4 linked regions of the Homo sapiens genome follow. The protein of the gene in region 4 purifies or fractionates together with the protein of the main gene of each other region. This does not show direct contact. Each region holds a gene or a part of one and is shown on either strand. Other genes may lie near its edges.

What was found.
Region 1: the proteins of CLMP (region 4) and UTP20 purify together in Homo sapiens (affinity purification with mass spectrometry; 2 studies listed by BioGRID and IntAct, with this or other methods). This does not show direct contact.
Region 2: the proteins of CLMP (region 4) and KIF14 purify together in Homo sapiens (affinity purification with mass spectrometry; 2 studies listed by BioGRID and IntAct, with this or other methods). This does not show direct contact.
Region 3: the proteins of CLMP (region 4) and KIDINS220 purify together in Homo sapiens (affinity purification with mass spectrometry; 2 studies listed by BioGRID and IntAct, with this or other methods). This does not show direct contact.

What each region holds. Positions count from the first base shown.
Region 1 is NC_000012.12:101,275,646-101,283,114, forward strand, and holds the start of UTP20 (small subunit processome component 20 homolog), read left to right. Parts: upstream 1-4,459; 5' UTR 4,460-4,637; coding exon 4,638-4,682; intron 4,683-5,470; coding exon 5,471-5,551; intron 5,552-7,469. UniProt on the Homo sapiens protein: Part of the small subunit (SSU) processome, first precursor of the small eukaryotic ribosomal subunit.
Region 2 is NC_000001.11:200,596,729-200,603,752, forward strand, and holds part of KIF14 (kinesin-like protein KIF14), read right to left. Parts: intron 6,614-7,024; coding exon 6,498-6,613; intron 5,341-6,497; coding exon 5,168-5,340; intron 3,776-5,167; coding exon 3,628-3,775; intron 3,386-3,627; coding exon 3,322-3,385; intron 1,694-3,321; coding exon 1,509-1,693; intron 1-1,508. UniProt on the Homo sapiens protein: Microtubule motor protein that binds to microtubules with high affinity through each tubulin heterodimer and has an ATPase activity. Plays a role in many processes like cell division, cytokinesis and also in cell proliferation and apoptosis.
Region 3 is NC_000002.12:8,827,604-8,834,627, forward strand, and holds part of KIDINS220 (kinase D-interacting substrate of 220 kDa), read right to left. Parts: intron 1-7,024. UniProt on the Homo sapiens protein: Promotes a prolonged MAP-kinase signaling by neurotrophins through activation of a Rap1-dependent mechanism. Provides a docking site for the CRKL-C3G complex, resulting in Rap1-dependent sustained ERK activation.
Region 4 is NC_000011.10:123,192,229-123,199,849, forward strand, and holds the start of CLMP (CXADR-like membrane protein precursor), read right to left. Parts: upstream 3,021-7,621; 5' UTR 2,713-3,020; coding exon 2,685-2,712; intron 1-2,684. UniProt on the Homo sapiens protein: May be involved in the cell-cell adhesion. May play a role in adipocyte differentiation and development of obesity. Is required for normal small intestine development.

The sequences.
Region 1 (7,469 bases), on a different chromosome or scaffold from region 4:
AAACTGAGGCTGAAAGGTTAAGTCAGTTGCCCAGTTACTGGCTAATACATGAAAAATGCTAGAACTGGGACCCAGTTGTCCCAAATCCAAACTCCATGCTCTCACTGCTTCCTGATTTACACACACTGTCAACAATACACAGTTTTCTCAAGAAGAGATACGTGGATCAGCTTTCCTTACTACCACAGTCAAGAACTACTCGGCTGGGCAGGAGGATCGCTTGAGCCCAGGAGTTCAAGACCAGCCTGGGCAATGTAGTGAGACCCCTGTCTCTATTTAAGAAAAAACCAACAAAGAATTACTAAAACTTTCTCTTCTCTTTCTTTTTTTTACATTCACTTCCTTGGTCCCTTGTTCTGAGTCAAATCCTCTCTGCCCTGATACACAGCACTCCTTGAACTGCTTTCTAAACAAGACCATGCCACTAGGTCGACTTGCCCCCTTCCAGATCACCACATACAATGTGTTAATTACTAGACTTGATCTTAGCCAAAAGGCTGAGAAGCGATACAATGTATTAATTAATCTTTCAACGGTCTCATATGACTGTGAGAAGTGATACAATGTGTTAATCTTTCAACTGTCTCATATGACTGTTGACTTTCTCATATGTCTATCTCACTTTACAGATGAGAAAACCAAGGCTCTTCTTACCTCTGAGCTTCATCTTGTCCCTATTCTTTCCTATTATTAGTCCAAGGATGCTAAAGATGATACCCATGGCCAATGCTAATTTGACAGGGTGTGGCTTTGCCTTGGAAACTAAAAGTAACCAAATTTGTCTCAACCATTTTGAGACAAATGCCTATACTCCTCCCTCTACCTAGATAACACCATTCATGTCCATTCCTTGCCTGGCTAATTCCTATTCATTTTCCAGGTCTCAGCTTAGATGTCACTTCCCCCAAGAAGCCTTCTCTGGATTCCACTTTCTTGTCTAGGCTGGGTAAACTCCTCATGTGCTTTCTTCCCTTCCTTTCCCTCCTCTCCCCTCCCTTCCTTTCCTTTACTTTCCCTTCTTTCTCCCTCTCCTTCCTTCCTTTTTTTTCTTTCAAGACAGGGTCTCACTCTGTTACCCAAGCTGGAGTGCAGTCGCAGGATCACAGCACTGGAGCCTTGACCTCCTGGATCAAGTGTTCCTCCCACCTCAGCCTCCTGAGTAGCTGGGACTACAGGTGCACATCCCCATGTCTGGCTAATTTTTGTATTTTTTGTAGAGATGGGATTTCGCCTTGTTGCCCAAGACTGGTCTCAAATTTCTGGGTTCAAGCAATCCTCTCACCTTGACCTCCCAAAGCTCTGGGATTACAGGCATGAGCCACTGGGCCTAGCTCTTACATGCTCTTAAAGTTTCTTGGCTTGAAATTGCAGCACGCTAAGCAATAAGGAAACAAAAATTAAAAAGCAAAACTTCCAGGAGCGCCCTATAAAGCTTAAGAATAAAAGAATGAAAAAATAATGTATGTTATTTACTGGCTGGAGTAGTTAGGACAGGCAGAGCCCTAATGGAAAAAGGATATAAAGGATGGTATAGGATATTCATCCTATACCTTGACAGAGGACAAACGCTGGAAGCAAGGAAATGTTTATAAGAAACACTCGTGCTCTTCACGGATGCTTTCGGTATTCCATTAAAGCTTAGAAACTTAGTTTTGAGAGATACCAAAAATCATGTGGTGCAATTCACATCCAATGCTGGAACTATATTACTCTTAAATTTGTCCGGGTCAATGTAAGTATTATAAGCTTTGTTAATTCAACAGACATTCATTAAACAACTCTTATGTTCAAGGGAACTGATGACACAAAGTTGAAAAAGTATAAGGTGTCAGCCCTTAAGGAACTTGTCAGGTAGCCAGGTAGTAGAGAATAAATGGTCATTTATTTATCCACTTAGCAAACATTTATTTCATGCTCTATGCACCAACACAGTATCTTGAAAGACTGGTATTATTGTCATCTCTATTTTATAGATGAGGAAATTGGGTCTCAGAAAGGTTAAGTAATTTCTGAGCTTGCGCAATTATGGTGTCTGGCACATTCTAAGCATCTTTTATCCATTAGCTTATTTACTCTGCATAATCACCACCCGTGAGGTAGCTACTTTTGTTAGCTTCATTTACATATACGGAAATGTCATTCTGAAAGGGTAACTGACCCTACTAATAAATGGCAGAACCAGGATTACCTCCAGACAACCTGGTTCCAGCATCTATGCTCTCAACCACCATGTTCTATTGACATATTGTTAAGCCAGTCAGAGTCAAGTCAGTGTGTGAGGGTCATGTAATGAAGAACAATGCAAACAATAAATGGTCAATATAACTTGTGTCAGTTCTTTCAGTTTCTTTGATTTTTCTCTTCACTCCTTATTGTCCAGTTAACTCCATTACCAAAAATAAATTGCAGAGAAGGAAAATGGCACAATGATGTGGGGGTGATTTTGGCAACAGGTTGGGAAAATATTGCTTTGAGTGGGGGCTTCTACCCTCAGTTAACTGCAGGCTTCTAACTCTCTGAAACGTGCACATTTTAGTGTGGATGAGCTTCTTTGCATCTTTCTGGGAGAAGTTCTACAGCTTTCTTAGATTTCCCTGTGACCCATAAAAGGCTTTTAAAAAAAAAAGACCAATTATTAGCCTACTGAAAGCCAATGGAACATTAGGCACGTCAATATTTTATTATAAAAAAATCTATAAATGCTATGGAGGCATTAAAATATTTAGAACAACCCTGTGGTGACACAGAAAATGTTGATGTGATAATGCCAATAACAATTTGAAAGTGTTATGTTCACTTTCTCAACTCTGATTACCTCCTCAATCCATGCATATTTCACTTCCTTTCTTCCAACTAGACTGTACTTAGCAAGGTCACCAGTGACCTTCACCTTGTCAGATCCAGCAACCACTTCTCTATCCTCGAATTTGCAGTATAGTTGGCCACCAGCTCTGCTTCCATGCCATAACTAGTCTGTTTCTACCTTACTGGCTCTCTTTCCCAGTCGCAAATGCCTCACACTTGAGGTATTTAGGTGTATTTAAGTCACGTCTGCAGCCCAGACTGCTACAGTGAGCTCTGTACAACAATATATCCAATTGTCTACTTAACATCACTCCTTGACTAAAATGTAAGCATCTCAGACCAAGTATTTCCAGTCTGGGCATGGTGGCTCACCCCTGTAATCCCAGCACTTTGGGAGGCCAAGCCAAGAGGACTGCTTGAGTCCAGAAGTTTGATACCAGCCTGGGCAATATAGCAAGATCCCATCTCTACAAATAATAATAATAATAATAATAATAATAATAATAATAATAAAAGAGCTGGGTGTGGTGGTGCATGCCTGTAGCCCTAGCTACTTGGGAGGCTGAGGTGGGAGGCTCACTTTAGCCCAGGAATTGAAGGCTGTGAATATTTTCAAATAATTAATTAATACTATTATTGCCTTTCTCGTTTGGCTCCCAGAACAGTACCTGGTCCACAGAGGACTCTCAAGAAATAGTTGCTGAATGAATGAATGAATGTAAAATGGGGTAAATAATTATATTTTTAAATTATTTTTTAAAATTGTACATATATGTATATATAACTGTACAATTTAACAACATGCTATGTGTAGACATTAAAGTGATGGGAAAAACACCAAACATTAACAGCGGTTGTGCATGAAATTAAAAGATTTTTCTTAAAACTCCTTCTCTATTTTTCAATTTTATTTACAGCGTAGTGGTTAAGAATACCAAAATTTAGAGTCTGAGTGAAGACTGCCAGTTACCAGCTGCACAACCTTGGTTTCCTCTTGTGTCAAATTGGCTTAAAAATATACACAGTACCGGCCAGGCGCGGTGGCTCACACCTGTAATCCCAGCACTTTGGAAAACCGAGGCGGGCGGATTGCCTGAGCTCAGGAGTTCGCGACCAGCCTGGGCAACAAGGTGAAACCCCGTCTCTACTAAAATACAAAAGAATTAGCCGGGCGTGGCGGCGGGTGCCTGTAGTCCCAGCTACTTTGGACGCTGAGGCAGGAGAACTGCTTGAACCCGGGAGGCGGAGATTGTAGTGAGCCGAGATCGCGCCACTGCCCTCCAGCCTGGGAGACAGAGTGAGACTCCGTCTCAAAAAAAAAAAAAAAAAAGTATATATCTATATATAGATATATAGATAGACGCAGTACCTCCTTTGTATTAACATCCCTAATAAGCTTTACTGTGAAATTATGGATGAAAGGATCTTTGCACGATGCAGGTACGTAGTGAGGGACAGTAATGTTAGTTGATAACGATTACAGGTATGTTTTATTTTATAATGAAAATACATTTGTCTTCTAAACCTTTACCGAAGGGAGTGAAAAGAACACCTCACCCAAACGCCCGCCCTTATGTGCGCAGCCCCGCCTCCTGTAGGCCCCACCCCACCAAAGGGTGCGCCTGCGCCGTTCTTTTTTCCGTCCACGTGACCCACTCAGGCTCCTCCTTGTCTCCAACATGGCGGCGCCCAGGGGCTCAAGCCGCACGTGAGAAAGTCTGGGCATCTGGGAATCGGAGAGTATAGCCTGTGAGCCGCTTTCCCCTCCTTACTGTCGGTTGCATCCCTTCGACACTCCCGAGGCCGTCGCGGGCCACTGGCCCTCTGCAGCCATGAAGACAAAGCCCGTTTCCCACAAGACCGAGAACACCTACCGGGTGAGCGCGGGAGCTTAGGCAGGGAGCCGCGGGTCTCCGCTGCCTCAGTCGTGAGACAGGCTCTGAGCGAGACTCCAGGGGCCTCAGACTTCTGGGCCGAGTGTGTCACTTTCCTGGAGGCTCCGGCGAAAGAGGGAGACACTGGATGTAGTAAACATGGGTTGGAGGAGGAAAGAAGTGTGGACAGCAAGTTTCACCCATGTTTTATGGGGTCTGGCCAGTCCTGGGAATTTCCTGTAGTCCAGAATTAAATTCACTATTCCAGGAGATTGCTTAGGACCAATTCTCCCCTGCTCTTTTATCTTTAAAGACCGAATTGGGCGAGTCGGCTGGCGGTGAGTGATTCCCAGCTAAGGGCAAATATACAGCGCTTTCTCTGTTTGCCCCTTGATAGATTGTTTCCAGGTCTTCCTTAGGATACAATCATAGGTCTGTATATGTTTAAAAACACTTTTATTGCAGCGACTTTGCTAGGTCCCCATGCTTATGGGAGGGTATGAAACCTAATAGATCTAGCGAGACTAATTGCCAGCATCCACCTAGGCTCACCAGTCTGGCAATGGAAATTTTATTTGAAATGACATAGCTGAGAGAAATTATGCAAACATAGAAGTATTCATTATCTTTGAACAGTGATGCAGTAAATTTGTTTACGGCCGTATGTTTTTCAGTTTATTTTTCCACTTATCCTTTGTGATTAGAGATGCCTACATGCAGCATTCAAATAGATATTAAAGATCTGATAAATTTTAATTAATTATGTATCTTAAATATACTTTCCCTTCCAGTTTCTTACATTTGCTGAACGACTGGGGAATGTTAATATTGATATTATTCACCGGATTGATAGAACTGCAAGCTATGAGGAGGTAAGAGAATGTGATACTAGTCAATCTTCAAGTGTTCATGGTGTTTTAGTTTCTTCTGTTAGTAGAAGTGAATTGTTTTTCAAGGTATTCCTTTTTGGACATGAAATGCTTTAGACCTGTGCTGTTTCATACAGTAGCCACATATGACAAATTGGATTTAAAGTAAATTAAAAATTTGGGTGCCCAAATGTGGCTAGTTGCTAACATATTGAATAAATATAGAATTGGAACATTTTCATCTTTGCAGAAAGTTCTGTTGGGTGAAGCTCTATTAGACAATTGACTTGACTTTCAGCTGTCTTTGTGATTCTAGCCTCTCCCTTTCCCTTATGCATTCCAAGCACTGCTGCAGATCCATATTCCTGAAGCTATAACTTTAAAGTGATTTTGAGGAAGCCCTTTTCCCGGGGCTTAATTTTCTCCTTTATAAAAATAAAGGGGCTAGACTACATAATATTTTCCAGTTTTAACCATACTCTGACTCTGTCATCCCTTTATTTTACTTTTATTTATTTATTCATTTTTTTGAGATGGAGTCTCGCTCCGTCTCCAGGTTGGAGTGCAGTGGCGTGATCTTGGCTCACTGCAATCTCCACCTCCCAGGTTTAAGCGATTCTCCTGCCTCAGCCTCCCGAGTAGCTGGGATTACAGGTACGTGCCACCACACCCAGCTAATTTTTGCATTTTTAGTAGAGACGGGGTTTTGACATGTTGGCCAGGATGGTCTCAATCTCCTGACCTCGTGATCTGCTCGCCTTGGCCTCCGAAAGTGCTGGGATTACAGGTGTGAGCCACCACGCCCGGCCTTGTCATCCTTTTATGCAGAAGTCTTTTTCTGCATCATGTCGTTATTCCTCCTAGCATTTTAAGGTCGTACGTAACATGCCTATACCTTGGCGATCCAATCTCAGTTCGTAATATTCTTCTTTACTATAATCAGACTCCACTCGCTGGGTCTTTGAATGCATTATCTCCACTGTGTAAATTCAATGTGTTAAATGATGTCGTCTAGGTGAGCACATTGTGCTTTGAGAACTCATAGTAAAGGGAACCTAACCTACATTCTTTAGGGGTGTCAAAAAAACGGTGATCTAGACGAGGTGACACCTGAATTTTGTTTATATAGGTTTTAGCATGGTAAAGAGGACAGGAAAGCCTGTTCCAGGCTGAGGGAGAAGCCTATATAAAGGAACAGAAGCTAGAGAATGCATGTCACATTCAAGAAACTGCAAAGCAGTCCAGTGTGGTTATAGGTGTGTATAGGGTGTTTTTTTTTTGTATTCATGGTGACTGGGATGGGGCAAGGGGGCAACTGGTGAGATAAAGCTGGAGAAATAGGCAAGGATCATAAAGGACTTCATATGTGAAGCTAAGTTGGGGTTTTATCCTGAAGCTGTAGGGACTTAGAGTTCTAGGACTGTAAGCAGGGGAATGAATGACATGATCAGGTTTAAATTTTCAATCTCTCTGGCTTTAGTGTGGAGAAAAGAGCAGGACTGCAGTTCTTCATCATGTCATGATTCCTCTGCTAGCCTTTTAAGGTCCTGTGTAACATGCCTTTAACTTGGAGATCCAATCTCAGTTGTCCAGTTGTGAGGATTTGACTGTTATCTAAGTAAGAAATGATTATGGTAGCAGCAATCAAGATAGAGAGAAGAGAAAGATTCCAGAGATGTTGAGGAAGTAGAATGAATGGATAGGACTTGTGACCTACTGGGTTTGCAGCAAGGAAGATAATGAGGTTAAGGCTGAATGGTTGAGGATGTTACTCATCAAGATATATTTATAGGTAAAGGAGCACAAGGTTGTAAAGATAAGATAATTAGTTCCATTTGGGGCTTGAATTTGAAATACCTTTGGCCATCCAAATGATAGTGTCCAAAAGATGTTTGTATATATGGATCTGGAGTATAGGTGA
Region 2 (7,024 bases), on a different chromosome or scaffold from region 4:
TAATTTTTGTATTTTCAGTAGAGATGAGGTTTCACCATGTTGGCCAGGCTGATGTTGAACTCCTGGTCTCAAGTAATCTGCCGCCTCAGCCTCCCAAACTGTTAGGATTATAGGCGTGAGCCACCGCACCTGGCCAGAACACTCTATCTCTCTCTCTCTCTTTTTTTTTTTTTTTTTTTTTTTTTGAGACATAGTCTCGCTCTGTCACTCAGGCTGAAGTACAGTGGCATGATGATCTCGGCACACTGCAACATCCACCTCCTAGGTTCAAGCGATTCTCATGCCTCAGCCTCCTGAGTAGCTGGGATTACAGGCAGGTACCACCACGCCCAGAAAATTTTTTGTATTTTTAGTAGAGACAGGGTTTCACCATGTTGCCCAGGCTGGACTCAAACTCCTGAGCCCACACACCTGTGCTAGGATTACAGGCATAAGCCACCACGCCCAGCCAGAACATTCTTTCTTTAAGACATAAAAACTGACAATCATAAAGGAAAAGACTGATGCCAGGTACTACAATAAAATTAAGAACTTCAATCAATCAAAGGCACCAGAGAGAGTAAAAAGATGTTACACGTTAGAAAAAAAGATATTTATACCAAAAAGCTCACGAAAGATTGGCAACTCCTACAAATTATTAAGAAATAAGCAAATCAGTTGAAAAATCAACAAAAGATATGAAGAGGCAAGTTACAATAGTAAACAAAAATGGCCAATCAACACATGAAAAGATGTTCAACCTTATTATTAATCAAAGAAATGTAAAATGAATCCATAATGATATACTATTTAGTGTTCATCAGATTGGCATAAAGTCTGACAGTACTAAGTATTGGCAACGATGTGGAGTAACAGGTATTCTCAAGGCCAATGGGAGTAAAAATTCATTTTGGAAAATAATTTGAAATTAGCTACTAAAGTTGAATATGCACATATTCTACAACCTAGTATCTCTACTCTCAGACATACAATTTAAAAGCACTTCCTAAACTTTATAAGAGATAAACTCATACAATGGAATACTTCATAGCAGTGAAAATAAAACAGGAACCAATGTACACAAATCTTGGAAACACAATGCAGAGTCAAAAAAGTTTACATACGCTATCATTCCAACAATATATACAAGTATTCCATTCATATGAACAAAATTCACATAAAGTAACATTTTTAAATTGGTCAATCCAACCAAAAATTCTGTTATGTAAGATAGATAGTTTACTTGCATGTGCATCATTATAATTGCAAGAAAATAAATTATTCTTCAATCAACAGATCAAGTATGCCAAAACAAAAACAGAGAGAGCATTACACTGTACTTTATATTGAGAGTAACTGACCTATCATCCTTATAACACACTCAGAATGTATGTTTTTCCTGACTAAACAATGGGTTTGAAGAATTCTACCAAACGATCAGTATCAACGAATATGCCATATGAAGGAAACCACATGTTATCAAGATATAGAACAGGTGCCTTTTCTTTTTTTTTAGAGGATTAACATACCAATGATCATCAGCAATCAGCACCCCAGATAACTGAATATCATGGCTTGAGTTTGGTTTATACTTTCCAACTGTAGTTGTTCCTTCTTTTATCATATATAGCAGCATCTCAGATAGTTGTGGATCTTCATTCAGATTAACAAGGTTTGGTAAATGATTGTCCATTTGAAACATAATTCCTGCTTTCTGGTAGAAGTCAGAAAAAGAAATTAATCTTAATCACAGTATGAAATTGTTAAATTCACCTAAAACAAATGGTCTATATTAAACATTAAAACAATTCTATATGAAGTCTCACTAAATTAAAGGTTATTTATTTATTTTTTTATTTTTATTTTTTTGAGACAGAGTCTCGCTGTGTCACCCAGGCTGGAGTGCAGTGGCACGATCTCGGCTCACTGCAACCTCTGCCTCCTGGGTTCAAACGATTCTCCTGCTTCAGCCTCCCAAGTAGCTGAGACTACAGGCGCATGCCACCACGCCCGGCTAATTTTTGTATTTTTAGTAGAGATAGGGTTTCGTCATGTTGATCAGGCTGGTCTCGAACTCCTGACCTCAGGTGATCCACCCGCCTCAGCCTCCCAAAGTGCTGGAATTACAGGCGTGAGCCACCGTGCCCGGCCATAAAGGTTTTTTAGACTCTCTCCTCCTTCCTTAGAATCTCTCCTTTGTGACCTCCCTACCTTCTTTGTCCTTCACCATCCTCAGTCTACTCATACATCAATCTATCATCACCAAATTGTGTCTTCTTATTGACTGACCGTCTTTAGAATAGATCAGTTTGTTTTGTTGCATCTTCATTGCCTTCACCACAGGCCCCTGTCAACTCACACCAAAACTACTGAAGCAGCCTCTTGATCACCGTCAACAGCTTCTGTTTTCAATCCATCTTATATCCTATGCCAGGTTAATTCTCTCGAAAGGGTGCTCTCAAAATGTAAATTCCCTGGTCACTTTTTAACAGCTTCTCACTTCCTACAGGATAAAACTTAATTTCCTTGGCCTGGAAATCAAGTCCTTCATAAACTAATCATAACATATCTTTCCAATTGTATCTCCTTATGATCTCATATAAACTGCTTCCAGTAAAACTGATCTACGTACCCTTTCTAAAGACAACTCAAACTTTTCTACCTTTACTTTCAGAGAATTTTCTCTTCCAAGAATGTGCTCTTCCTTTTCTCTTCCTATTAAAATCTTACCCAAACTTCAAAGCCCATCTCAAATGCCACCTCTTTTATGAGATTGGATTGGCCATGCGCAAGGAATTTTCCCTTCTTCTCCTGAATTCTTATAGTACTCCCCCACTACCAATCACTTGAAATACTTTTCATTACATTAGGTTCAACCATATGAAACTGCCAGTGTTCAACCATGCTTTACCTACAAAAATGGCAATTGCTTATGGCTCAATCTACTGAAATCACATTGCATTTCAGTCTTCTATTTACGTTTTGTAAATCTCTCTCTGGATCACAAGCTCTCTGAGGGATGAAACTGTGTTTAATCACCTTGGCTTCCCCTGTTCCTGAAAAGCATAGACATTTAATATATATTTGTAGAACCAAAGTAAATATAACAAGATGGTTTATTCATACTTTAACTTTCCAACTAGTTTATGGGCTGGCTCTAAGCAACCAGTCTTGATCTTAACATTTCTTTATATTAATTTTCCTTACGGTATTGCTTTGTACAGAGTCAGTATATAGTAAGTATTTGAAACATTAAATTTACATGCATTGGCATATTGGCAATATTTATTTCTTGGCATATTTCTTTTATTTTCTAATCAGTTTAGAAAGTTGAAATAATACCTGTAACTCTTTTGTTTCTTGAAGTTTTCTTTTTTCAGCTTGTTCAAACTTTTCTTTCCACACTCTTTCCAAAGACAAAGAAAATAACAGAGTTAAAAACATCCAGATGTATAAGATTGAGAGTCAAGAGACAATCAATGAAAATTAGGCAACTACCTAGTAATATTTAAAATATGATAATCTGGGAGTGGGCTGCTCTATTCATAAGGAAGGTCGGAAAAATACTCAGTATCCTCTTGAGGTCCCTGCCATTCCTATGATTCCAGAGCAACACACTTAACATTTAGAGTACTGACTGTACTCTACCTTTGCATTTCTGCCATGTCTCTCTCCTGTTGATGCAGTTTCATTCTTAAGGATGTTATTTCTTGCCGACAGAGCCTGTATCGTTCAGGGTCAATATTCCGACTGTTTCTCTGAGCAGCTTTTAGCTTTGCAATTTCTGCCTTCAATTCTGAAGATTTATACAAAGATGCATTAATAATAACATTTAATATATAACAATTTCCACAGTAAGCATAATCCTCCAATCTTCTATTTCATTTGAAGTTTTAAATACAGTATTACTAAATAAAATAGAATATTGGAGAAATCAGCTCTACTTTATATAACCTATAAATCTTTACTTAGTCTTAACCTGAAATATGCTCCCATATTAATGAACTTTCCCTGTTCATAAGTAGGAAAGCTGTATAATGTACTGACCAAAGTGGAACACTTTTGAGAGGCAAAAGGGTAATTGTTAAAGTGAAAGTTTATTTAAAAAGTAAAGAAATAAAAGAATGGCTATTCACTAGGCAGAACAGCCAAGATCAAAGATTTTTCAAGCTGGAATTCAGAATATTTATTTATTTATTTATTTAGACAGAGTCTCACTGTCTAGAGTGCAGTGGTACGATCTCGGCTCATTGCAACCTCCGCCTCCTGGGCTCAAGCAATTCTCCTGCCTCAGCTTCCCGAGTAGCCAGGATTACAGGTGCCCACCACTGTGTCTGGCTAATTTTTGTATTTTTAGTAGAGACAGGGTTTCCCCATGTTGGCCAGGCTGGTCTCGAACTCCTGACCTTAAGTAGTCCGCCTGCGTTAGCCTCTCAAAGTGCTGGGATTATAGGCATGAGCCACCATGCCCGGCCCAGAATACTTATTTTTAATGAAAACAGTCCCACTTGTGAAACAGAAGGGATCCAAAAGGGAAAGGATGGACCAGGATAGACAAATCAGATTCTTCTCTGGCTCATACATCTGAAGTGTCTATCACCTTCTGCTGCTAAAAAGGGCCAGAGGACAAAGGGGCATGAAAAGATGATAGTTCTACATCAGCAAAGATAAAACTGTACAAATCAAGATTTCTTGCAGGCATTAAAGTCTATCCTAAATTGATGATTACCTAGAGATAAATAGAAAGCAGTATTTAGCATAAATGAAGTTCAGCCTATACTAGAAACTCGAGCTCCAATTGCCTTTGGATCAATGAACTAAGCATGAGCAGAGCTAGTACATAAAACGTCAATGGAAGAGAGGTCATAAGAGAAAAATAGTAAATAGTTTTATTGGCATTTTGCTGCACACGTCTATGACTGTGTAAATTTATTGTTTAATGCTTACTGTTTCCCCCTTACTCACACTCTGTTTTCTATGTTCTTTTCCTAATTGTTTTTCTCCTTATTACTTATTATCTGTCCTTCTACCTATCATCCTCCATCACTATAGGCTGATGACTAGAATCTATTAAAATAGGTATAGAAAAACACCTTTGATGTTCATAAATTACATATTTTAAGACTGCAACTAATATCTGGGACTAAACTGTGGCAAAACAATTTTTAAATTCTGAGAAAATATTCACCTCTAATTAACTTAGCGTTCATATCTTCATTTACTTTAGCAATGTTGACTATTAAACGGGCTTGGTTAGCATATCTAAGTGTGCTTAATGTTTCTTCTATGTTGCTGGCAGCGGGACTAATCGTAGCAATCATTGCAGTTTTTGAATTTCCACCCAGACTTTCTTTTAACAGCCTACAAGAAAAAAAGTCATAAGACTTTGCTTCTACAACAACTTAATAACAGTAATTATCTAGAAAGCACAAAACAAACTAATAGGGTATATAATACAGTATTATTATACTCTACTCAAATACCATTTAAAACTTTTCTGGTATTTGTAACTATTTCTAGATCTCATAAACACTTTTTCTCTCTTACACTTTTTATATTGTTTCAAGAGGCAATAATCTGTGCAGAGATTCTAAAATGTGGTGGATCATCAAGTATTTCATGACTGTGAGCTACCATAGGGAAGGGACTATGTGTCTTGGTCATCTTTGTATTTCCAGTGCTACCACAACCTTTTGAAGCAGGTGCTCAATAAATGTTGAAAATGATGAACATTGAAACAAAAATTCTATATTGTACTAAAAGCAAAATCTTTATTTTAGAGAAAAAGAGTATGAGACTTAAAACATATATTAGTGCAGAATGAATGTCACTATTTTTAACTTTCATAAGACATGAAAAAAATCAGATTTTCCCTTATAGGTTTCAAGGTGGCAATCACATTGTAATAAACCAATTATAAAGACACATTACCCTCAAGTAAAGATGCAGTCCTTATTGTAACTGTATATTAATGCCTATCACAACTGAATATTAAATCCATACAGATGTAATCTGAATGTAACATATTGAAAATTAAATATACATTCACTAATGAAAACATTTATTGAGCACCCATGTATTAGTCACTGTGTAGTAAGCAAACAAAATTATTCAACTTCTCTTTATACAACTAGCAATATGTTTGGTAGTACCATATATGTTCAAACATCAGCCACAAATAATAGTTAAGTACAAGAACAGTTATTTACACTCATATAGTACATATTATGTATTAAGAATTGTACACTAATAATCTAATTCTCACTTACCCCTAAAAGGTATTGATTTTATTCCTATTTTACAGATGAGGAAACGGGCTAGAATATTAAGTAATTTGCCCAAAGTCACAGAGCTTATAAGATGCTGAGCTGAGATTCAAATCCAGGTAGTTTGGCTCTAGAATTCATAATGCTTACCACCTTTCTCCATCCCAAAGTTAATGAAGTCAGTCTATCATTCTTTTCCCCATAGTATTCACTATATTTTATACAATTCTTTATACTTCAAAAGATACTTGCCATGTAAGAACAGATTCACGATAAGGAATAAAAACACTCCTTTGGTTTGCTTGTTCCGAAAGTGCAGATATAACTTTTCCCAAAGTTAGCAAGGACTTATTAATACTCACACCTTCCTGCATGCAAGAAAAAAAAAATTTTTAACTTAAAATACTTCTCAGCAAGAAATTTATTTCACAAAATATATTTCTCCCCTCATATAATTACTGAGTAAATACTTTTTTACTTTCTTTTTTTTTGAGACAGAGTCTCACTCTGTTGCCCAGGCTGGAGTGCAGTGGCATAAACATGGCTCACTGTAGCCTCGACCATCCAGGCTCAAGCAATCCTCCCACCTGAACCAAGTAGCTGGGACTACAGACACATGCCACAATGCCTGTCTATAAATACTTTTTTCTATAAACTACCAACTTTCTTATGACTCAAACGTATTTTCTTTAAAAATTAATCATAACCAAAAAGTACGTATCTCTTTTTCAACCACAGCAATGCAGTCTATAAACTGCAGATAAAGATATATTTGGGGA
Region 3 (7,024 bases), on a different chromosome or scaffold from region 4:
ACCGTGACTCACCTGCGTCACTATCATCGCTTCCTAACTGGCCTCCCTGCCTCCACTTTACCTGGAAGAGTGGATTTTAAATGGTCTCACTGCAAATAAATAATTAAGTATGGGAGGTGATGAATATGTTAATTAGCCTGATTTGATCATTCCACAATGGATACATGTATCAAAACATCACATTGTACCCCTAAATATATATAATTTGTCAATTAAAATTACATTACTTTTTTTAAAACTTTAACATATATCAGAATCACCTGAAGAGCTTTTAAAGCAGATTCCTGGGCCCCACCGTCAGAGATTCTGACTCAGCAGGTCTGAGTGGGGCCCCTGACTCTGCATCTTTATCCAGCTCCCTGTGACACTGACAACACTGAGGAAGAACCACAATGTGAGCAGTACTAAGTCAGAGCATGGCCTCTTTTATTCAAAGCCCTCTAAGGGCTTCTCGGGGTGCTCAAAGTAAAATCAAATGTTTTTACCTTGGCCAAGATAACTCTTCAGTGGCAAGCCTCTCACCTGTGTGACACCTGTGACTGTAGCTCCTACCACCCCCTCTCACCCTCCTGGCTGCATGGCCACACTGAGCACCGTCCCACCTCGCCAGGCCTCTGTGCTACTTTTCTGTCTGCCTAAAATTCTCTTCCACAGGACATGCACACGGCTTACCCCCTGACCCCGTCAGGTCACCTGGTTACAAAGTCTCACCGGATGTGGGATGTCAGGGTACCGACCCCACACAGGCTTCACTGTCACCCTGCACTCTCAACCCTTTGTCCTGCTTTCACTGCTCTCCACACCACTTGCCACCATCCAAAAAATGACATATTGTTCACTTATTGTCTGTCTACCATAACTATAAGTTCTAAAAGAGTAGAAATTTTATTATATTCAACTGGACATCCAAATGCAAATAAATAAACCTCAATCCATACTTTGTACCACATACAGGTGCTAACTCAAAATTGACCTAAATATAATGTCTGAAAGTACAAAACTTCTAGAAGAAAATATAGATGACTTCAGTGACCTTAGATTAAGAAAGATTTGATATAACACTAAAAGCATGGTGCATAAAAAAAGAAAACTGATAAACCAGAGTTCGTCAAAATTGAAAACTTTGGCTGTTATGAAAATGAAATTATTTGGGACTGGTGAATCCTCTTTGCCTTCCTTTTCCTCCACCCTTGAACAGGACTGTCTATAACTGATATCCCATGCCCATTCCCTAACTCTAAGTTGGAGCAGATAACTTGATTCTTGCGTTTCCCAGGTGGAAAGGAATCATGCCTCTGGATGGACTACACCCAGACCCTCTCATACCTGATTTAGATGATGAGATTTAAATGAGACTGTGGACTTTGGGTTGATGCTGAAATGAACTGAGACTTTTGGGGAGGCCTTGCGATGGAGTGAATATGTTTTGACACAGGAAGGAAATCTATCTCTGGGGGCCAGAGGGCAGAAACTATAGCACTATATGATTCTACTTATATAGCATTCTGGAAAAGGAAAACTGCAGGGGCAGAAAACAGATCGGGGCTGCCAGGGTCTAAGGCAGGGGAATGAGATGGCTACAAAAGAGTACAAGAGAATTTGGCGAGTTAATGGCTGTTCTATATCTTGACTGTTGTGGCAGTTACACAATCATTCGTTTGTCAAAATTCAGAACTGTCCATTAAAAAGGGTGAATGTTATTACATGTAAAGTATAAATCAGTATACCTTACTTTTAGGGAGTATATATTCAGAACAACTTGAATTTATACTCTTGGGGTGAAAAACTATTATTTTAAAAAATGATGTTATTTGATCCCATAGTTGCACTTCTAGGAATTATTCTAAAAACATGAGAAACATGAACAAAATTTTAAGATTTTAAGTAAAACAATTTTATCCATAAGAACAAAAATCTTAGAAATGGATATTATATAAATTATAAAAATTCACAAAGTAGGATAATATACAGTCATCAAAATGTCTCAAAAAATGTGTTACAGAAAAATGCTCATGATAGAAGAAGTGAGGTAAAAGATTAAGAGCTATATATACAGCATCTCAGCTATTTTAAATGTATACATTTTTAAATACTGGAAATAAAAAAAGAACAAATGGTGATGGGCATTAGTGTAATTTTTATTTTCTTTAAAACCTTTATCTCCTACATGTTCTGGAATGTGATGCTTCTATCATTAGAAAGCAGTGAGGGTTTGTATTAGCAGTCATCACCAACACCTACCTTCATTTATTCCCACTCCTTCTAGGATCAAGCCTAAGGCCTCAGTGAGGTTTGCAGGATCTGGCTCTCCCTCTATACCAGCCCCAGCTCACCCCACAGCCCAGCCAAGCAGAAGAACTCAAATTCACCACACTCCCCCAGTGCTGCTCCACACTCCCGCCTATGCTCAATGTGCTCCTTCCATGTAGAACACCATCCTCATCTCTACTCTACCAAGGCACCCATCTCCCTCTGAGTCACACAGCTACCATTTTTCATCCAGTTTACCCCCTAAAGTGTGAGATCACCCAACCCCACACTCAGTGCCTTAGTTTAGACCTTCACCATCTATACTAATCAAGACCCCTAAGGTTGCAAGAGACTAATTTAAACTAGCTTAAGCAAAACAGAAAAATGTATTTGAAGGATAATGGTTTATTTCCCATAACCACACTACAGGAAGAGTGGGTGCCACTGGACCTCAAATGCCAGGAGGATTCTCTTTCTCTACTGGCTTAATCTACTTTCCTTCTAGACCAACTACTTCTACACAAAGGGAAATATGGCTTCCCACAGCCATCCAGCCTCAAATCAGATCGTTTATTTATTTTTTGAGACAGGGTCTCACTCTGTCACTCAGACTGGAGTGCAGTAGCACGATCATGGCTCACTGCAGCCTTGACCTCTAGGGCTCAAGCGATCCTCCCACCTCAGCCTCCTGAGTAGTTGGGACTACAGGTGCACACCACCATGCCCAGCTAATTTTTCTATTTTTTGTAGAAATGAAGTTTCACCATGTTGCCCAGGCTGGTCTCAAACTCCTGGGCTCAAGTGATGCGCCTGCCTCTGCCTCCCAAAGTGTTGGGATTACAGGTGTGAGCCACCGCACCTGGCCTAAATCAGATAGTCTCTAACACCAGAGAAAGCAGGCTATTCTTTGTTCCCAGATCCAACAGTCCCAGAAAAGGGCTCTGACTGCCCAGGCTGGATCTGTTGCACACCCAGAACCAAGCAACTAGAGACACAAAGTTGGGAGGGGGTTACAAGGTCACACCATATTGGCACTGTTTCCAGAAAAGAGTAAACAGTTGTGATCTAGGCATCAATCCTAAAAACTTCTACTACACCATCTCTCACCCAGATCAATGTGACAGGCTAGCAACTTTTGCCTCCTCTCTCCAGGCCTGCCACCTGCAATCCATTTGCCACACTGAAGCAAGAGTGACCTACAATACATCTCTCCTAAAACCAAGGTTGGGAGGACAGATGACAGCTTTACTACTTACAAGTTATTCAAGGAACTTACGCCTTCTAAGGCTTTTAAAGCCATTGTAAAGATGCAAATACACAATTCCTACGGAAAGCTTTGCTCTCCACTGAGCAGAGTGAAAACTCAGTAAGTTCAATTCTTGATTATGATGAGGGCATGCAGATTCTTCACAATCTGGCCCCATCTTACCATTCCAGCCTTATCTTTCTCCCCTCCTCAGCCCCATCCCTCCCACCCTCTACATAGTCACATCTACACCTCCAGCTCCAGCCAGACTGATCTACTTGCAGCTCCTTCACTGCCCCACACTTTGTTCTTTCCAGACCTTTGCACTTAATGCCCCCTCTGCTTAGAAAGTCCATTCTCCACGTATATATGCCTGAACAGCTCCTACCCATCCTTAAGAACATGGCTCTAACAGATCTTCTGGAAGCCTTCATTGACTGGCTGCTTACCCCAAGCTGGGCCAGGCCCTGGGCTCCTCCACACCTGTGTATACATCTAGTTGTAGACTGCTCACATCACACTCAACTCTCCTCTCCATTTTACTCACTCTCTCCACATCTCCCTTAGACTAGAAGTTCTTGCAGCAGGATCTGCTTTATATCTAGCACAATGCCTACACAACAGGAGGTGAGAGAGAAAAGCAGCCCCTGACTGTCGGGAACTGACCCGGCACACACAGCCAGACTTGGTGTTCTAACATAAATGCAACAATTTCAAAGAATGCCAACATCAAACAAGGTCACTCTGTCACCAGGATATGAAGACAAAAATAAGACTACTCTGGAATCATATCTGAACATAGACAAAAACATGAACATCACCCAAACCACAAAATGCCCAAACATCTTCCTATCGTGGCTAATATGAAGCATTGCTGCTTCTTTATCAATTACAGCTTTAGCCTTACTCCATACCTCTTGCCTTTTCGTTAAGATTTTAAATATCCAATTGCAGAATTCCCACTCCTCCTTATTCCTGAAGCACCCGAGACTGAGCAAAGCTTTGCTTCCTTGAACTCTTCCCCGAATCACCTAACATCATCTCGAATCTTCTAAGTCCTTTCTAACAACCTGTTACAGAGACCCCCAACGTTCCCTAGGACAGGCATTCTCCTTCATTGCAGGGAGTTAATAAGACCAACTTTGTTCAACTAGAGGTATGTTCCTGGCAGTCTTTGACTAGAGGGCACTGACAGTGTTTAATAAATTTCACTGAATAATTGATTATTAAATGTCATAAGATGTTTGTAAGCACATATATAAGTGCCTAGAAATTACAAAATAAAATTAGAACATTAAATCCACATCTGTTGATACACACAATAGTAAAACCAATGACACGCTGTCATGTTTAAGAGCACGTGTGTAGTATAATTCTACTTGATAAAATAAATAAGACCCCCATATATGTATCTATCCAGTGTGTACACATGAACAAAAAGAAAAGTGTGGAAGGACACACACCTGGCTGTAAAATTCGTTATCTTACCATGTAGGACTAAAAGGAGGAGATGATTAGCTTTGCCTTCACGCGTCTTTGTGCTATATTGTTTTACTTGATGTATTAAGTCTACGTTCATTTTCAATAGAAAAAAAAATGTTTCATCACAGGAGGAAAACTACAGCTTCTCATCTTTCACATTTCAGTTCAACGTTCACTTCCAAAAGCCCTTTCGGCTTAAAACGAAGCTGTCTAGTGGTCAAAAGTATGGACCCTAGAGCCAGACTACCTTGGTTTGACTCCTGACTTTACTACTGACCATTATATCATCCCAGGCTAGTTTCTTTTTTTTTTCCTTAATTTTTTTAACTAATACATAATAATTGTACATGTTTATGGGGTATGTGTAATATTTGGATTACATGCATAGGATGTGTGATGATCAAATCAGAGTATTTAGGATATCCATCACCTCAAACTTTTCTCATTTCTTGGTGCTGGGAACATCTCAAATCTTATCTTCTAGCTACTTTAAAATATACCATAAAAAATAAAATACACAATAAACTGTTAAGCATAGTACCATGCTGCTGAACACTACAGCTTACTCCTTCTACCTAACTGTATGTCTGTACTTATTAACCAGCCTCTCTTTATCACTCCCTGTCCCCTGGGGTAGTTTCTTCACCTCAGTGTCTGAGTTTCCCCATCTTCAAATAACTGCACAATTACATGCAATGGGATTAAAATAATACCTAACCCATATGAAGCCAATAAATATTAGCTGTTTTACATAATAACAGAATATGATCATTTCTTAACCACCCTTTCTTGGTTGATTCTCATAACCTGGATTGTTCTCTATTATGGAATCTTTTTTATTCCTTCATAACACTTTACTAAACTTGTAATTTACATATTTATGTTTTTTAAATTTGTCTTTTTTTTTTTTTTTTTTAGCTACACCTGCTGGAATGGGACATATTTACCTGATTAATAGCTGTCTCTCCCACTAGGATATAAGCTTTTAAAAGGAATGAATTATTTTCTTTCGTTCTATACCAAATACCCAACACTTAGCTTAATAGCTGGCCCATACAAGACACTATATTTCTTGAATAAATGGACATCAGTTGAATCTAATGTCCACAGCACTTTCTCTCTAATGGGAATATAAGGCTATACATTCTTTTGCACAATTAGCAAAAAAATTAATGTCTTGCCACCCGTTTTGAAAATGGCAGATGTAGCCAACAGCAATGTCAGAACAAAAAATTTATGTTGTAGTAAGTCCATTTTTAGAACTTGCCAATTTAATAGGCAAAATCTCTAAATGTATTCAAAATGCTTTCACCAAAAGGCCAATCGGTTAATAGACGCACCCTATAACTTTTCTCCGGTTACAGACACAGTGCATGAAAGCAACAATAGTGCCATGCTGCCCAAGGCTTACTTATTTCTTATCCTCCAGATACGACACAGTAAGTTCCTGAATGTGGCCCCTCCCATGGTTCTCTATCTCCAGCCCCTCTTCTCCTCCTCCCACTTAAGTCTCCAGCAACAATCACCCCTGTGCAGTCCCCAGAGCCTACCCTGGTGCTGACATTCCTGGGCCTGGGTGGCAGCGCTTGCCCCCTCCACACAGAGGCCTAAGTGGTCCTCCTGAATCGTGTCTTCTTACAACCATTCTGTGCTCAAAACATCCCAACGGTTGTCCTCTCACTCAAAATCCCAGATCCCTACCAGGGCCAAGGCCTTGCTTGATCTATTCCACCCCTTCTCCACCTCCCTAAGCTCAACTCTTGCTGCTCCTTCTCCTTGACTCTACTCAGGCCACAGTGACTTTCTGTACATACGTCACCTGATCAGAGCTTCTCTGACCACCGTGTATAAATGGTGTATACCATTTATACGTGTATAAAACAGCCCTCTCCCCCTCTACTATATCCCCCTTCCACAGCCCTACTTTAAAGGTCTTCTTTATAACACCTAGCATCACTCCACATACCACATACTTTGTTTTTGGTCTGCTTCCCCTAGCCAAACAAATGTAGCTCAATGAGAATAAAGACTATCTGTTTTGTTTAC
Region 4 (7,621 bases):
AAGTCTTTGATGTCAGAATGAAGTGTTTATACTCAACACTAAAAGCAATGAGACTACTAAAGGTTTTTGGAAGAAGGGAGAAAAACCATAGAATTATAGAAATTTTGAATTGAACATTCCCCTACCCCTATGCCCATTGTACAGACAAGGGAGTCAGAATAAGAACCAGAGAGGTTGCCAGACTCTTAAGTTCCAGCTTCGTGCATTCTACCAGCGGCCTCACAGGGTTACTCGGGTAGCAGTGTGCAGGATGGAGGAGAGAGGACAGGCAGGACAGGAACGTGGCAGCTACTATAGTCATCCAGGAGAGAAGTTAAGGTGGCACAATGAGGGCCGGAACGTTACGGGAGTGAGGCAGGATAGTGGGTCAGAAGAGGGGCTGAGCTGGAGCTCCTTCTCTCTTCTCCATGGGGCTCAGAGCACTTCTTATTCATTCACATCAGAGAGGTGGGTTATTTGACCTCACTCATTGGCAGGTCCAGGAAACATGGAGTCAACTGTCCCACAGTTCAGACGATGAACACTCTCCACCCTCCCAGCCCCTGTTTGATACTGTGCAATCTTTAGAAAAAGAGAAGCCAAAAACCATGCCAGCCAGGATCAGAAGCAGCCCTGGAACTGCCCCTTTAAAGGACCAGTATGATGATTTCAGGATTCAGACAACTTGCTGTGTTTTCTTTCTGCCTTTGCTGAACAGTGTCCGAGCATTCCATGGCTCCAAACCATTTCTTAAATAAGGACAGGTGCTCAAAAAGTGCAAATTTTTTTTCCCTTTCCCAGACCTCTCTCCTATAGGTCACGCTGACATCTTACATTCCATGAAGAGGATGGTGAGATCGAAGAGCCAGCCAGGTGTGGCAGAGGGTAAGCGCTTTGAGAATCTCTGCAGCCACAGGAGGCTGTAAAGCAATGCGCTTTAGCAAGCTTTCTCTGGAAGCAGGCAGCCTGCGCTCAAATTCCGTCTCCCCTAATTATGAGTGTGTGGCCTTGAGCAAGTTACCTGGCCTTTTTACAGCTTGGTTTCTTCATCTGTAAAATGAGGGTAGCCAACAAGGATGGCTGGGCAGCCAATAGGCTTGTTGTGAAGAACAAACGAATTACCAAGATAGTACATATAAAGTGTTCATATAACAAGGACTATTAGCTGTTTTTAATAAGAGAGCCCTGAAGTTTCATTCTACTAAATATCTGGTGATTGGTAACCTAGTGGTAGAGTCCAGTAAAGGGAATCAAGGTGCCATCCAGCTGCGCCAGATGTGCACAGGAACAGTATTGCAGTATTTGGTTAAGTCTAAAAGAGTTTAGAAAATAACCCCTCCCCACCTGCCTTACTTGAGCAATAGTTTGGCTTAGCCCACCTCTTTCATTTCTCTAACTTAAGTGATTATCAGCCTGAGGCTGGCCAAGATGGGTATGCATACAGTATAATTGGTTTGTAAAGTTTCAAAAAAGACAGAGAACTCTAACCACGTATTTCAGGATTTGGTGGTTCTTCTAGACACCAGCCTCCTTCAAACCTCTGGTGTTGTAGGCTAGAAGGGACTTAGGAACCATCTAGTATTCTCTTTCCAGAGCTAAAGACGTGGAAGCCCTGGATAAGGAGTAAGTTGTCTGAGGCCACCCAGCTAGTCAGTTCAAAACCAGGACCAGCTCTCCCGTGGCCTGGTGTTCAGGGTAGTGCTCACTCTTGACCACTGGCTGGCTCTTTGATTTTCTGATCTCCAGCTAACTGTGGGGCCTGTCTGCAGTGGATCCCATGCTTCAGGGTGCATAGTGACGTGCCCTTGGCTCTCCCTGACTGCCTTTCCTGCCCTGGCTCCTCAGACATTTCCAGTCACTCCGGTGGGCTCCTACCACCCACATCCCTGATGTCCTCTCCTGCAAACCTGCCTCTGCCTCAGGGCCTCTGAGGCCCCAAGAGTCCTGCCTGGGGGACCCCAGGAAGGGACGCTCAGGAGGACTCTTCCCTTTGCTCTGGAGCCTGTTTCAGGAAAAAGTGGTGCTTGCTCTATTTCCCTCTGTTCTGGTTCCTCTGCTGCGTTTTTTCCAAGTCTTCTTCACTCTCTGTGCTCGGACTCCCCCAGCCTTGCTCTTCTGTTTTACATTCCTGTTCTCCTCTTTTTCTCTCTCCTTCCCAACCCTTCCCCTTTCCCCTTTTCCTTCCTTCCCTGTGTGACTTGGGGCATTTGCATCTTCCTGGTGCTCCTTGGGCCCTGCCCTTTTTCCCTCTCCCCTTTCCTCTCCAACCCTGCCTATCCCCCACTCTGCTCACCCTTTAACACATCTGTTTCTAATCTGAGCCTCGGAGGCGCCTGTTTGAAACAACAACAAAAAACCCCCACCCTCAGGAACCTGGCACAAAAATTCCTGGATAAACCTTCCCTCCACCAATTCTCCACTTTTCCCAGATACACCAGAAACTAAACACCGCCCTAAAGAGGACCCTGCACATCAAACGGTTCCCCAAGCCTGTTCAAGGGCCCAGATGTGCGAGACAATCTCGATGGCCGACTGGGCGGCCCTCGGTTGCCAGATGTGCTCCTCCGTGGCCAGGAGGCAGGGACTGAAAAGCCGGCTGACTCCAGGGGCTGCAGGGACACCCGGTCAGAACCGGCGTCTTTCCCGGACGCAGGGCTGCGTTTGCCCACGGCCATCCAAACTCCCGCCCTCCCAGAGGCACTCACCTAGCAAGAGGAGAAGGAGGAGGGACATCCCGATCCCCGGACGCGGGCGCTTCCCCGCTCAGCTGCTGCTTGGCTCCGGGGCGGCCGGGCGCCTCCGACGGACCTCGGGCGAGCTGGGCGCGGCGCCTCGGGGTGCGCGCGAGGTGGCTGCAGCCATGTGCCGGGCGGGAGCCGGCCCCGCGCCCCGTGCCCCTGGGGGCAGATGGGCTCCCGGCGCTCGCCCCACCAGCTGGCGCCCGGACGGGAGCCGGGACCAGGGTCAGGGAGGAAAACGCGAGGCGAAAAGGCGCTACCGCTTCGTGGAACACTTTTCCCTGTTTGGAAAGAAAAAGGAGTGAAGAAAGAGAGAGGGAAAAAAAAAATTCAGCTGGAACCACATGGTTGCCTCCTACCGCAGCCCCTCCCTCTCTCTCTCGCTGTTCCCTCCTTCCCTCCCTCCCTCCCGCGCGGCGTTTGGGGTTTGCGGTGGGGGCCGGTCGGGGAGAAGCGTGAGCTGGCCGGGCAGGGAGGGCCGGGGGAGACCTGGGGCCGTGCAGAGGCGGGTGGGTTGAGAGGCGCCGGGCGTAGGATTGATTCTTTGCAGGAGGCATTGGTGACACCTCGGCTGAGAGCCCATGGACGAGGCCTTGTCCGTTCCTAGAGCTCTGCTCTCACTTGGTCCTTCTCTCCACTTCTCTCTCGCTTCTTTTTTACTCTCGTTTCTCTCTGCTTCCACGTCTCTCACAAATCTGGCGTTTCTCTCTTCCATCTCTTCCTCTCTAGGTCTCCTTGTTCGCATTCTTGCCTCTCCCTCCTCGTCTCCTCATGCCCTCTCCCCTCTGTCCTCTGCGCTCTTCTCGCCTCTCCTCTCCCTCCCCGTCTGGTTCTGTTAGTGTAAAGCCACCAGACTGACCAGGCCGACGGCGGGGCGCGGAAGTGGGTGCGAAGGCAGCCAGCGGCCGGCCGACCAGGGCTCTCCCCACCGACTGCCTGCTTTGGCACCCGGCTACCCCCCTTGGCCTGGCTTTCCTGGGGCCTTTCGCGTTCGCTCGCTTTCTACTGTCGGTATTTGCAGCAGCGCTCCCTCAGGTCCCGAGCAGAGCTAAGCCAGCCAGCACCCAGGGGAAGGGGACCCACAGCCCCGTGGAAAGAGGTCTATCGAGATGCTTTGCAGCAAAGTGCTCTGCACGTGGCCCTGGCCAAAATGTGCACCACCCCCTTTCAGAAAGAACATAAGGCAGAGGGAGCAGAATCCCCCTGGTGCCAGGGCCTGCGCGCCCGGGCTCCGGGAACCCGGCCCAGGAGGCTCGCGGAGGGCAGGAGGCTGGCGGCCGGACGGGGGCGGACGGTGGGTTCCGCGGAGCCGAGCAGCCCCGCCCCAGGGTCGGCCCCTGGGAGTCTGCCCTTCACTACCCTGCTGCTCAGCGGCAGCGGGAGGCAGCGAGACTAAGAAAGGGCAGTGAGGGTGGCGCTCAGACCTCAGCTGCCTGGACCTCCTGCCCTGACCTTGTGCCCAGGGCCTCTCAGAAACTCTGGTCCCAGTCTCTGAATGTCCCTGGAGGGCTTCTCCCTCAGCTGCCCAGAGGCATGATGACGCAATCGCTCACCTTCGGCCTCGCCAGAGCCCAGGTTGGAAGCCGGGGCCAGCGCTCTTGAGAAGAAAGATGAACCCCGCCGGGGCCGGTGGGCTGCCGAGTCACACATTTGCAATGAAATGCAAATGTGTAATGAAAACCCGTCCCATTTCGCAGACTAGGAAAGCAAAGGCCTGGAGAGGTTATGGAAGTTTCACAAGGTCACTCAGAGGACTTGCAAAAGCTGGGGCTGTTCCTAGGGCTCGCGGATCAGCTGGAGCATTGCTTTAGAATTGCAGCATTTCTCCACTCACTCCCTCACCCCTTCGATACCGATGTGTTAGCATCCACACTATGCCAGGTGCTTTTTTAGGTGTGAGGACACAAAGTGAGTAGAACTTGGAAGTTGACATTTAAAAAAACCTGGGAGGAGTATGTCATGAACACCAAGTATGGACCCAGAATCATATTATATTATTACGTGGTTTTTATTGGGTCATATTATTGACCTTTTTATATCATTCTTATTATACTGCTAAGGGATAGTCACTGAAAAAAAAATCACCATCCCTTAGCATGAATAGGAAGACAAGGAAACTATAACTTAGAGAGGCCTAAATATCTTGCCCCAGATCACAATAGAATTAAAATGCTTCTATTCCAATATTAATATTCTAATATTTAAAAATATTATTTTTTATATTGAGAAGTGTTTAAAAGGTCTCTTTGACTCCGAAGTAACTTTATTTTCCATTTCATACTAATTGTCTAATAGGGGAAATAGATACATTCACAACTATAATTTGTAAATGAATATGTTGAAAAAACCGTCTTTTTTCTTTTCTTTTTTTTTTTTTGAGACAGAGCCTCACTCTGTCACCCAGGTTCACTGCAACCTCTGCCTCCTGGGTGCAAGTGATCCTCCCACCTCATCCTTCCAAGTAGCTGAGACTACAGGCTCACACCATCATGCCCGGCTAATATTTGTATTTTTGGTAGAGATTGGGTTTCGCTGTATTGCCCAGGCTGGTCTCAAACTCCTGGGCTCAAGCAGTTCACCTGACTCGAACTCCCAAAATGCTGGGATTACGGGCATGAGCCACCATCCCCAGCCAAAAACAGTAATTCTTAAAGGCTGGAGAAGGTGGCAGAAAAACTACATACAGAAGGTAACTCTTTTGTTGTTTCTGCTTTATAATTAAAAAAAAAATTGACATTTTGGGCTTACAAAAAAGTTGAAAATAGTACAAAAATTCTTCACCCAGATTCCCCCTTTTTATTTCTCTCTAGAGGTGGGGTTTTTGCACAAGTTTTAAAGCCTCACCTCCACCCCACCGCTGCTGGTGGCCTTTCTCAAGAACTTAGTAATGCCAGTGCTGTTTATTGCTTGAGGGCTGGTGTGCGCATGAAGACAGATGTGTGTGGGTGTAGGCAGATATGTGTTTAAACCCAGTTGCTCAAGCCGAAGGTAACAGGCGCCTTTGGCTCTAGGTCATTAGTCACCAGCACAGGAAATGATTAGACTGAGATTGGGTCACAAGCACTCAATTTTCCCAGCCCCAAGTCTTGTAGCCAATATGGCACATATTTTTTGGAAGAGGATCTTTGGGTCCCTGAAGGTGTCTGTCTCTAAATCTGAAACCTCTTTTCTATTGGCATGGGTCTCTGGGCAGGAAGAGCAGAGAGAGAGTGCTTCTGCGATGGTTTGTAACTCACATCCCATCCCTACCAGTGCTGGGCCCCACTCTGGGCTGGGTGCCTCGGAGGATCCCAAGATTACGAGATAGTCCTTACCCTGAATGGACGGACCTCTCAGTTCAGAGGGAGAAAAAACACCAACATGGGAAATGTTTCAACAACAATACAAGAAAGTTAGATAGTTAAATGCCACAGTAAATTATCCTGACAATAAAAAACAGTGGGAATTCCAAGAAAGGAAAGAGCACCTTAGGCTGGGGTAATTGCGGAGGAGAGCAATGATGGAACCAGCCCTTGGGGGATGAACAGAATGTCATTAGAAGAGATGAGCTGGGGAGAGCCATGAGTGGGGGCATTCCTGGACAAAGACATGGAGTTAGGAATAGCTTTGGCATATTGAGGGGCCTTGAATGAAATGAAATGCTTGAAATAAAAATTGTTGTTGAAGCAAAATGCCCTGGGGGGCAAAACTGTGACAAGTTCCAAATGTGAGGAAAAGGATTCTAGAACTCGTTCTGCAGTGTTCTTCCAGGCTCTTTGAAACAAATTTAAGAAAAATCACCTTGATGAGAGCCTTATTTTAGGAAGTGGAAATTGGCAGCTTCTGCCCAGAGGTGACTACAACAGTTGGCCAGGGTGGAGAACTTTTGCGACCCTTTCATATCTGTCAAGCTACCTTTGTCTCAATATTTTGTAGAGTGATATACATATGCAGATTCAAGACACTTCCCTTGTCCTTCCCAATTTCTGGGGAGCCAAAGAGTACCACCCTAAACCTCTCCTTTACAGGAATTCTAGAGCTATCAACGGGAGTGTATGACGCACTGGAGAAGAAACCTGAAGGACAGGGACTGTTTAGGACCTATTGTATTAAATAGGCAGATAAGATGAGGGTAGTGAAACAGTGTAGAAGACATTGGGAAGAAAGATTTGACAGGGTTAAGTACATAACAATCAATGTGGGTGAAAAGAGTGGAAGAGAAAAGAGGCACCGAATCTGAGTATAAATGACTGAATACATTGTTACATATGCCAAGATTGATACCGACCATTTATCTACCTCCTGGTATATTCCAGAGATTATAAGCATGATTAACAGGTATCACAATATCATACCACAATGAAGAAACTAAGGTTAAGGTTTAGCAAGATTAAATAAATTGCATATCATCCCATGGTTAGTAAATGATTGAAGCAGGATATAAAGTCAGGAGATTCAAAGCTTTTACACCTCACTGTCTTTTGAATAGTACTGCTGACAAACTAGGGAAGTTGGGTAAGTTAACTTGTCAGGAATGGAAGGATAAGTTACCCAATTACGTGGAGACATAGTAACTGAAGAGCTGATAAATCATCATCCATCCATCCATCCCTCCATCCATCTTTCTATTCTTTCTTTCAATCAATAATACAGCAAATCTTTGTTAAACACCTACTATATGCCAAACACTGGAAAATCAATGGTGAACAAAGGAAAAGTTGTCCTTGTCCTGCAGAAGCTTCTGGTGAGTTAAGGGAAATGAACAACCAATAAGCAATTACAACATGGAGTGAGATATGCTCTGCTCAGAGAAGAGCAGAGTGCTATGGAGATCACAGCAGGACCTTACACCTAGCGTAGGAGATGCCAAAAAGACATCCTGGGAGAAAAGTGCTGTGAACTGAGGGGGAGATGGAGACCTGTGC